Homo sapiens: one gene and its partners. The protein of the gene in region 2 purifies or fractionates together with the protein of the main gene of each other region. This does not show direct contact. Each region holds a gene or a part of one and is shown on either strand. Other genes may lie near its edges.

The links.
Region 1: the proteins of CTTNBP2NL (region 2) and PPP2CA purify together in Homo sapiens (affinity purification with mass spectrometry; 4 studies listed by BioGRID and IntAct, with this or other methods). This does not show direct contact.
Region 3: the proteins of CTTNBP2NL (region 2) and PDCD10 purify together in Homo sapiens (affinity purification with mass spectrometry; 3 studies listed by BioGRID and IntAct, with this or other methods). This does not show direct contact.

The regions. Positions count from the first base shown.
Region 1 is NC_000005.10:134,205,541-134,209,196, reverse strand, and holds part of PPP2CA (serine/threonine-protein phosphatase 2A catalytic subunit alpha isoform), read left to right. Parts: intron 1-3,065; coding exon 3,066-3,275; intron 3,276-3,656. UniProt on the Homo sapiens protein: Catalytic subunit of protein phosphatase 2A (PP2A), a serine/threonine phosphatase involved in the regulation of a wide variety of enzymes, signal transduction pathways, and cellular events.
Region 2 is NC_000001.11:112,402,677-112,406,332, reverse strand, and holds part of CTTNBP2NL (CTTNBP2 N-terminal-like protein), read right to left. Parts: intron 1-3,656. UniProt on the Homo sapiens protein: Regulates lamellipodial actin dynamics in a CTTN-dependent manner. Associates with core striatin-interacting phosphatase and kinase (STRIPAK) complex to form CTTNBP2NL-STRIPAK complexes.
Region 3 is NC_000003.12:167,728,315-167,731,970, reverse strand, and holds part of PDCD10 (programmed cell death protein 10), read left to right. Parts: intron 1-3,656. UniProt on the Homo sapiens protein: Promotes cell proliferation. Modulates apoptotic pathways. Increases mitogen-activated protein kinase activity and STK26 activity. Important for cell migration, and for normal structure and assembly of the Golgi complex.

The DNA of each region.
Region 1 (3,656 bases), on a different chromosome or scaffold from region 2:
AGTTTGGTAGGAAGGGAAGAAAGAGCTCTGGTTGGCTTTTCTAGATTGACAAGTTAGAAATTTCACTTAAGAGTTAACTGTTCTTTTTATTTTAAAGGACAATTTGATAATGTCAACATTTAAAAACCAAACTACTAGATACACTAGTTAAGTTCACTTCATAGTATCTTCTCTCAGGAAATGTGCCTGCATATGTATACAGAGGAGAAAATACGAGGATATATATTGCTGTAGTTTCACACCCCTCTGCCATTGTAATTGGTCAGGGGAATACTCTGCCTCCACTATGAGAAAATAACCAGCTGTCTCAATAAATGTTATGTATTATTATATATTGTTAGAAAAGCAGGCTGCTGAACAATATTGTTTCTAGTTTAAAAATGCAAAGGAAAACTATTGTTTCTGTAGACATACAGTATGTGTGTAAACTTTGTAAACAAAGTTTTAAAGGATATACAGACACTCCCCAATTTTTCGACTTAATGATGGTGTGAAAATGATAGCTATTCAATATACCCCTCAGTTTATGATGGGACTACATCCAGATAAATATATCATAACTTGAAAACATTGTAAGCTGAAAACACACTGTTGACTCGATTATATTTACGATAGGATTATCTGGATGCAGCTGTGTTACAAATTGAGGAGCATCTGTACATCAAAATTTTATTGGTAACTTTGCCCAAAGGGGGTGGGATTGTGTAGGGTGCTCAAAGGGAACATTTCATTTTATCTGTGCCGAAATTTTTTACAAGAATGTATTACTAATTTGTATAGTTTAAAAAATAGATAACACTGTTTATCGGTGTGATTTGCCTAAATTGAAATAAAAGCAACAAATAGCATTTAGACTTAATTTTCCTTCATGATTTGAATAGAAAATTTGAGTCAGTTGTAGTAAGGAACTTCAGGCAGTCCTGAAAGTCAACTTTTTATTATTAATACAGAGAATAGCTTTGCAGATAAACAGATATTCACAGAAGTATATTAACATTTAACTTCTGATAGCTTTAAATGTGAAAATTACATCATGGCAAGATTTACATGGTATATAACCATCTGTTTGCTTATGTCATGCCCTTTTAAAACTTCTGAATAACTTTTGCAAGTTTCTTCTCAGTGTAGGACTTATTTCATTTAGTTATTTTCATTAATATATGATAGGTGTTAAAAAAACACTAGATGTGGTATTAATGCCAGACAGACTTGGTAATGGAATAAGCCTAGTGAATTTGTGTTTTTTAGTGATAGTAAATGGGAAGTTGGAATTACCCTGCAGAGAAAAATTTCAGAATGAAGTAGGATTTGATAATAATGGGTTGTACATATTTCTTAATAGGTATCTCAGGCCAGTATAGTGGCTAACGCCTGTAATTCAGCACTTTGGGAGGCAGAGGTGGGCAAATCATTTAAGCTCAGGAGTTTGAGGCCAGCCTGGACAACATGGTGAAACCTCACCTCTACAAAAAGTGCAAAATAGGCATAGTGGTGCACACCTGTGGTCGCAATTGTTCATGGAGACTGAGGCAGGAGGATCGTTTGAACCTGGGAGGTGGAGGTTATAGTGAGCCGAGATCATGCCACTGTACTCCAGGCTGGTCTGGAACTCCTGGGGTCAAGCCATCCACCCGCCTTAGCGTCCCAAAGTGCAGTGGTTCTTAAACTTGGTTGCACACTGGGAAAAGGAGGGGTGGGGGTGCTTAAAAATTATTGATGGCTTGATTCCAGTCTCCAAAATTCTGACTTTATTAGGGGAAGGAATGGGCATTGGTGTTTTTGTTTTTGTTTTGAGACAGAGTCTTGGTCTGTCACCCAGGCTGGAGTGCAGTGATGCGATCTTGGCTCACGGCAACCTCCACCTCCCAAGTTTAAGCAATTCTCCTGCCTCAGCCTCCCAAGTAGCTGGTACTACAGTCATGCACCACCATGCCTAGCTAGTTTTTTTTATTTTTAGTGGAGATGGGGTTTCGCCATGATGGCCAGGCTGGCCTCAAACTCCTGACCTCAAGTGATCGGCCCGCCTTGGCCTCCCAAAGTGCTGGGATTACAGGTGCGAGCCACCGCGCCTGGCTGGGCATTGGGATTTTTAATGTGCAGCTAAGATTGCATACCAATGCTTTGAACCCAGTCCTTGTCATCTGTGGTTGTCATGGCTCATTAGCAACAATTCTCTGGTAATTTGTTTTGGTATCTTATGTAAAGTGGTCTCTCCCAGTTTCCCTCTCCCTTTCCTTTGTGACACTTAACACAGTGTACTTTTGGCTTGGTTACTTGTTTGTGGTCCTTCTCCCCTCTACGGTAGTGGGAATGAGCCATCTTGTTCACCACTATATGTCCAGTTGCTAGCATGGGGCTGGTACAGATGGTTGAGCAAATGATTTTCTCACAGGTATGAGCCACAGTGCTTGGCCAAAAACATGTTTTTAAAAAGTCAAACAGGGCTGAGGTGAGGTGGCTTATGCATGTAATCCCAGCCCTTGGGAGGATGAGGGTGGAGGATCACGTGAGACCCCGTCTCTACAAAAAAGTTTGTGAAAATTAGCCAGCCATGGTGGCGTGTGCCTGTGGTCCCCACTACTGAGGTGGGAAGATTCCTGAGCCAAGAAGATCCAGGCTACAGTGAGCTATGATCATACTACTGCACTCCAGCCTGGGTGACAAAATGAGACCCTGTCTCAAAAAAAGAAAAAAAAAGAATCTTTGAGTGCTGCATTGTAGTTAGAACTCTGAAGGTAAGGAAGTAGATACCTGAATGTCCTGTTCGATTTTCATTGGTTTTATGTGACAGCTAACAATTAGTATTTAATTAGATGGCTATTTGATAGGTTTTTAAAAAACTCCTGGTATTGATGATAGGAATGCATATTTTTTCCCTAGGTAACAGGGTGAGATAGCTAATGGATTATAATCATATCTCACTTATTTTAATGGGTTCATAAATGCCTGCAATTTTATCTTAGACTGAGTCTGCCCCTTAAGCTACATTAAGTGTAAGTAAACAAATCTTTGTTAATATTGTTTAATGCCAAATGTATTGCCTTATTTTTGTCTCCCATCTGTAGGCTAAAGAAATCCTGACAAAAGAATCCAACGTGCAAGAGGTTCGATGTCCAGTTACTGTCTGTGGAGATGTGCATGGGCAATTTCATGATCTCATGGAACTGTTTAGAATTGGTGGCAAATCACCAGATACAAATTACTTGTTTATGGGAGATTATGTTGACAGAGGATATTATTCAGTTGAAACAGTTACACTGCTTGTAGCTCTTAAGGTAATTTCAATTTTATGTTGGGGCATGTTGAAATGGGTAAGACAGTCCTCTTGAAAGTTTTTTTTCCCCCAGTTATTTTCTCTATCTGAATGTTAAAACAAAATTCCACATTTAGGAATGCATATGTTCAGGTTTTGGACTTAAAAATCATAGGCGTCTGCGTTCTGAGTAAGGGGATGGTACAGAATCAAAACAAAAGGAGGAGAATGAATGCCTCAGTCAGATTGTTTGAAAAAATAGGCTGGGCGTGATGGCTTATGCCTGTAATCCCAGCACTTTGGGACGCTGAGGTAGGCAGATCACCTGAGGTCAGGAGTTCGAGACCAGCCTGGAGAACATGGTGAAGCCCCATCTCTACTAAAAGTACAAAAAACTAGCCGG
Region 2 (3,656 bases):
CTCAGCTAAACAACGATTCACAAAGCTGGAAGGAGCCTCAGCAATAATCTAATTCAGCACTCTCATTCTACAGATGAGTACTGAGGCCAGAGTTGTTAATGTGAATACAGTTAAATAGAACTAGGTCTAGCACACGTTTTTTTTTTTTTGAGACGGAGTCTCACTTTGTCACCCAGGCTGGAGTGCAATGGCGCGATCTCGGCTCACTGCAACCTCCGCCTCCCAGGTTCAAGCAATTCTCCTGCCTCAGCCTCCTAAGTAGCTGGGATTACAGGTGCCCACCACCACGCCCAGCTAATTTTTCTATTTTTAGTAGAGACAGGGTTTCACCATGTTGGTCAGGCTGGTCTCGAACCCCTGACCTCGTGATCCACCTGCCTCGGCCTCCCAAAGTGCTGGGATTACAGGCGTGAGCCACTGCGCCCGGCCGCATACATGTCTTTTTAAGATCCAGTTTAATTCGCTTTCTGGGACAACATAATAGGTATCAGGTTTTTGTTTTGTTTAGTTCTAAGACTCATGCAACTCTGCTATATCTCTCTGTGAGTGTGAATGTGTGAATGTGTAAGTGTGTGTGTGTACACATCTCTTTCTCTGTCTCTCATATATGATGTCAGCAAGATTTATATGTATATTGAAGAAAAGAAGGAAGTAGCCTTATGCCCATAAACAAACATTCAGATATCTCTTCCCTCAAATGAGAACATTAGTGCAAAGCTATTAAAAACAGGTCTGGGCTGGGTGCAGCGGCTCACGCATGTAATCCCAGCACTTTGGAATGCCGAGGCAGGCAGATCACCTGAGATAAAGAGTTCAAGACCAGCCTGGCCAACATGGTGAAACCCCATCTCTACTAAAAATACAAAAATTAGCCGGGCATGGTGGCGCACACCTGTGATCCCAGCTTCTCAGGTGGCTGAGGAAAGAGAATCGCTTGAACCCAGGAGGTGGAGGTTGCAGTGAGCTGAGATTGCACCACTGCACTACAGCCTGGGAGACAGAGCAAGACTCTATCTCAAAACAAGAACAAAAGGTCTGTCTACCTGGATATCTGTTTACACCATCTCAGGTATTCTCATCTGAGACAAGGCCAAACTAGAACTACATTAGTTAAGCTACTGGAATGGATGTTAATGAAAATGAATAACAACTTTTATATTAATAAATTTTTTATCATTGAACATTTTAAAAAAGATATGTCTTTTAACATCAGAATATTATTACCAGGAAACTGAAACATTACATTTTTTTTGTTTGTTTTTTTTGAGATGGAGTTTTGCTCTTGTTGCCCAGCCTGGAGTGCAATGGCGCAACCTCGGCTCACCGCAACCTCGGCCTCACCGCAACCTCCGCCTCCTGGTTCAAGAGATTCCCCTGCCTCAGACTCCCAAGTAGCTGGGATTACAGGCTTGTGCCACCATGCCTGGCTAATTTTGTATTTTTAGTAGAGACGGGGTTCCTCCATTTTGGTCAAGCTGGTCTGGCACTCCTGACCTCAAGTGACCCGCCCACCTCGGCCTCCCAAAGTGCTGGAATTACAGGCGTGAGCCACTGCACCCGGCTGAATCATTTCTATATAATTTGTTAGATGGCTTTATTTCATTTAAATGAAATTGTAACATGATTTCAATCAAATATGTATCTGACCGTCTCTATTGTCTATCTGTCCATCAGTCCCCTAAATTTTTGCTTTTCTGAAATAATGCCACCATAACTTGTAAAATACCACAAGGGAACAATAACATGTAGATTGATTATTTTCAGTAAGATGATTCATGGGCCACAATTCTAGAGGCAGCCTGGAATGCAAACCCTTCAAATGCTAATGTAGGATGATGACGTCATTGATTCCACTAAGATTCCACACTGGGGAGAAACTCCAGAGTATGGTATGAAGGATTAACCATCAAACAGTTAAGGAATCTGTGTTTTAGCGATGCCCATAACCTGACTTTATCTGAACTGCAAAAAAAACTTCAAATAATCCTCTAGCAGAAATAAAACTCGTGATGTTGTTTTGTCTTCTAAGACAGATAACTGACTTAAAAAAAATTTAACAATTGAGTATCAGTTGAATATTTCCAACAACAAGCCTGGCAATTGTTGTTCTATGGTTCTTCAGGGACAGTAATTCTGCTGGGAGACAGTATGTTATAGTGGAAAGCACATGGATTTTGGAATCTGACAGAGCTGAGTTTGCATCCTGGCTCTGCCACTTGCTCTTTCATCCATTTAACCTTTGAACTTCAGTTTTTTAGCTATAAAATGGACATAACAATACATACTGTAACAGGAGGCTGCATGGTTTAAATGAGTTAGTGACTGGTCAGCTTCTCATTTCTCATCCTTAAAGAGCATACTTTTTGGTTTCATCTGCAAGGATAATGAAGTTTTCCTTTTCCAATGGGTCATCATTGTCTATCATTCACGTGTCTAATTTACAAACCAAAACAAGTTTACTTCTGACTTCTGGCAGGTTGATCTGCACCAAAAAGAAAGAGATGGCCTGGCCAGTTCCTGGGAAAGTCAGTTTAGAGACATGTTCAAGCCAATTGTATCTGCACAATACTTGGGAAAAGAAAAGGCCAGCCTTCTGCTTAGATTAGTTTTTTGTGCCTTTAGCATACAGGTAAACGCATACCTTTGCTTCCACTGAATTTTAACAGGTTTTAATCAAGTCACAACTTTAACTTGTGATGACTGAGAAATGGGTTTCCTGAAAATATCACAGCTATTTTTTTACATTAAATTAAATGCATAATGGATATGTATCTACATTCGTAATTCAAGAGCAGTTATCACATTCTATTACATCAATTCATCTGTTTACATATCTGTCTTCTGTCTCACAAGACTCTGAACTCATCTGAACAACTACTCTGTCTATTCAACTTGATCACACTTAGCACTAGCAGTGTCTGGTTCAGATACTGAAAAAATGCTGGTTGGAAAGAAATGTACAGCACTTTCAATCTCAGCCAACACAACTGGACTTTACCTTTTAGAAAATGGGAAGCCACTCAACATTTTTAACCTGGTGAAAATCATAACAAAAGCATAGTTTTAGGAAAGTTAATGCTTACAGTACAGGGCTGACTTGACTGAAGAGAAAATGGAAACAGAAAGAGTAGTCGGGAAAAAAATTTAACAGCATAGGTATGAGGCAAAAATGTATGAACTAGGATGGTAGCAATAAGAATGGAAGAGACTGACAAAAGAGACATTAAAAAGAATTTACTTAGTTATTTAAGAATTTACTTACAGTAAATGACGGATTTTCATTTAGGGAGGTAAGAGGGGAAATAATCCCAGATCAGCTGAGGTTTTGAGACTGGGTGACTAGAATGATGATACCATTAGCAAAAACAGGGATGTTAGAAATGGAACTGGGTTTACTGGGGAAATGATGACTGTGATACGAGACAGGCTGAATGAGAAGTTATTTGACCCCCAAGAGGAACGTGTTAAGAGTCTGTTAGTGTGGTGATGGCTAAGGGTTTAGAAGTGAAGAAGTCTTTGGGGATAGAGCCTTTTAAGGAAATTTATTCTGTGCCCTCAATTTAAGGACAAGAGGCAACAAGATGAAACTGATATATAGGGCTAGACCAGATCATTGTTATACCCTCAAACATTAAGTCAGTTAAGAACTAGATTGG
Region 3 (3,656 bases), on a different chromosome or scaffold from region 2:
TGCTTCCTGACTTGGTGGCCTTTACATATTCCGTCTCACTCCTTGGACTGTTCCCCTCACGCCTACCTAAATGTGGCCACCTGGTAGTCAGTTTTCACGTCTCAATTTAAATATCGTTCGTCAGGGGAGCCTTGCCCGCCTTCCCAAAATCAGAATAGGTTTCCGCCATGTATTCACCATACTCTGTACTCCTTTGTGGCATCATCATAATAGAAACTTAATTATTTCTGTATTTATTTGACAAATACTGTCTCCTCACTGGACTATAAGCTCCCTGAGCAGGGCCCTCTCATTTGTCATGTTTTACCCCACTACTTACGCAGTACCTGGCACATTGTAAGGGTTCAGTAAATATTTGCTGAATGAATGAAGGAGTGTATTCATGCACAGTGCTTCCAGCACTTCTCTGGGGACAGAAATAGAGAAATGAATAAAGCGGATATGCTTTCTGGATTGAAGTATATAAGAACTTTCAAATGAGCCATAATGCTTAGGCAATTTAGGTTATATGTAAAGGAGTCATTGACAGAATTTTAATATAAATTGTGGAAAAATGTTTGTTCTTTTTGGAGGTCTCTGAAATCAGGATTAATTTTCTAAGTGGAAATGATAAAGGAATCACTTTCATTTGCCGCAGAATTGCTGTGTAACACAGCATTTTAGAGACTTATCACTGTCCTGCTTTTTGCAAGCGATATTCATTATAACAAAATATAGACATGGAAGAAACTTCTAATGGACTCTTCTTCCCTAATGTTGTCTCGTTTTGCCCTAAAAACCTTTATTTCCTCTAGGTAGTAGTATTAATACTGTTTTATAGCTGAAGACATCAAGAAAATAAGTAAATTTACTTATTAAACTAAAAAAAGTTTAATTAAATTGCTAGAGTTTCCAGAACGTTGGTACTGGAACCATGGTTAGAATCTGGATCTATCTCCGTATTCTAGAATCCATAATTTTTTCTTTTTCTTTGCTTTTTTGTTTTGTTTCTTGCTTTTTAACCTTGCTATCTTCCTATGAATTATACCTTTAATATCACTTGATTTAGACAAGGTGGCTTTGTAAAATTGAGTAGTTTTTGTTTCAAAGGAACTTATATTTTGGGTTTCCTGAAAATTTTTCTAATACTTTTCTAATCTTATTTGCTTTATAGCTGGAGACTTAAGCATAAAAAGATTATTTTTAAAACATACAAACTGAATTTTAGGGATAAATTGTGTTAGGTTTTGGTCTTGGAAACAAGTTCTGCAGTCATTTGTAGTACCACGGTATGGCATAGAGTAAGGTCAACAGCCCTGAGTTTCTGTAGCCTTGTATGCCTTCATGGATTTACCAGTTTACTCTTCCACAAGATCTTGTCAAAAAGAGATTGCTGATAATTTGGCTTTAAAATTTGGTAATACTATCCATTTTATTATTAAAAACAAGTCTTTGCTAAATCCTAAACTTACTTTTTAAAAAGTCAGTGTTGATGTTACTTGAATCTTGGATAAAATTTTCATATTTACCTAGCATAACCAGTATGTGGAGGATAAAACTGAAATACTGCTTTTTATATGTTGTTGGATAATTAATATCATTATGATAGGTGTTACTAAGAATTTTAAGCCACTTACATGATAAGTAATTTTTTCCATAATATAAACTGTAAAAGTGATTTAGAAGTTAAATGTCATTGTTATCTATGTTATTGCATTTGAAATATTATAGTAAGCTGCAGTGTTAGAGGGTTATGCTTTAGGGACACACACACACACACAATGCAAAAAATGAAAGCACATTTATTATAGCAATTAGAAATAATTTATGTGCTGAAAGATAAACACTGTGGTTTGATGGTTCATTTTTGTCTGTATGAAGATGGTAATTTCAATTTTGTCATTTAAGCTACAAAATTTAAATGTGTCTTAAGTGTATTATATTACACTTATTTTTCAAGCTCACCCTTACATTTTTGGTTATGTATAACCATTTTTAAAATCACCCAAAAGTGATTTTCTGCTGTTCAGTTTCATTCTTATACAGTTGATAGAATCCAGGTTGCCTATAGGGTTAAAAGAAAAAGAAAAGAATTTTATTAACAAGCTTATGAACTATTGGGTAACAGCAGTGGAACATGTTAAGTGGTAGTCACTAACATATACTTAGGCTGGTCCCTTGGGAATAAGTTTACCAGAGGTTAGTCTAAATAATGACTTTTTGATTCATTTACTTATTGAATGCATATTACTTGTGAAATTGCCTTAAACCTTCTTTGGAATGAACTGGAACCTAATATAATAGCTAGCATTTATTGAGTATTAAGTAACTAAGTGCCAAGTCTCATGCTAATAAGCATTTTACAGGATCTCTTATAATCCTTACGACAACCCTTCGAGGTAGAGGCACTATTATCTCCAGTTTTTAAATGAGGAAACTAAAGTACAGAGAGGTTAAGGAACTTGCCTACGGTTGCAGGAAAAATTGCTTGGAATTAGGATTTGAATCCAGGCTGGCTGACTCAAGAGACCATGTTTTTCATCATTATAGTAAAAATGATGTTAGTGATTGAACTGCATTGGAGAGAGAAATTAGCATTAAGAGTTGTAGTTACAGAGCAGTTATGTCTTAAATGCTAAGGTCAGTGTGGCAGGCAGAAATTACTTAATATTCAAACTTTTTAAAAAACCTATTAGGAAATACACGTTGTAGACTAACAACTTCAACACAGCCAGTTTTTTTCTAGCATTGGAGTAGATTTCTTTTGAGTACCAGGTGAAGTGTTTGACTTGTTATGCAGAGACCATATTGAAAAAAGAAATATGTATATTATAATACAAGAGTCACAATCAGTGTGGCAAGCTACTCTTTGTGAGAGCTCACTGTGGCTCTCAGTCTGGTGTGGGGAGTGGCAGATCCACGTTTCTTATCTGTCTCATTCTGGGACTTTTGCATAGGGAATGGAATTATCACATACTGCAGTAGTTATTTTTAGTGAAGTTATTTTTTTGTTTGTTTTCTTCAAACAAATGTTCACCATGTCTGTTGAACTTGCATAGGGTAGGAGTATCATGTGAAGCAGGTACGCTCCCTGGAGTGTTAATGCCAAGTGGCAGTGTGACATGTCACTGTATTTCTTTACTGTCTCTCTTCCCTGCCAAGACTACATACCTTCAAGGGTATGTGCTGTTTGACTTTTCATCACCATATCTCCAACTAACACTGTTGCTGACTTAGACTGACTATGCAGAATACTGTGTTGGATACTAGGAAATAGAGAAATGGATACAACTTCTCTTTAGGGAGTTTATACTTCAGTAGATACAAGGGGAAAGGGTTGAAAGACCATTGTATGGACATTTAGTCTTTCTAATATACTAAGTACTTCCATGTGCATCAGTTCATTTTACAATTTTAGGTTAGAGCTGATAGAAAAATAAATGATTGTTTCTCTAACTGCCATCTGGTCCCTGGCACTGAAATGGGTCTCCCTGTCTTATTCAGTCATTCTCTCTTACTTCAAGATAGACTGGAATTCAACTGAGATTGAAGTTATGGAATGACAAAACCCTAAGATGTTACACACCGGCTGCCTCCTCAGACTTATATAAGGTTACTACAACAGAAGCCAGTTGGGAATGTTAAATGAGTCAGACCTGGCCTCTAGACAGCAACTG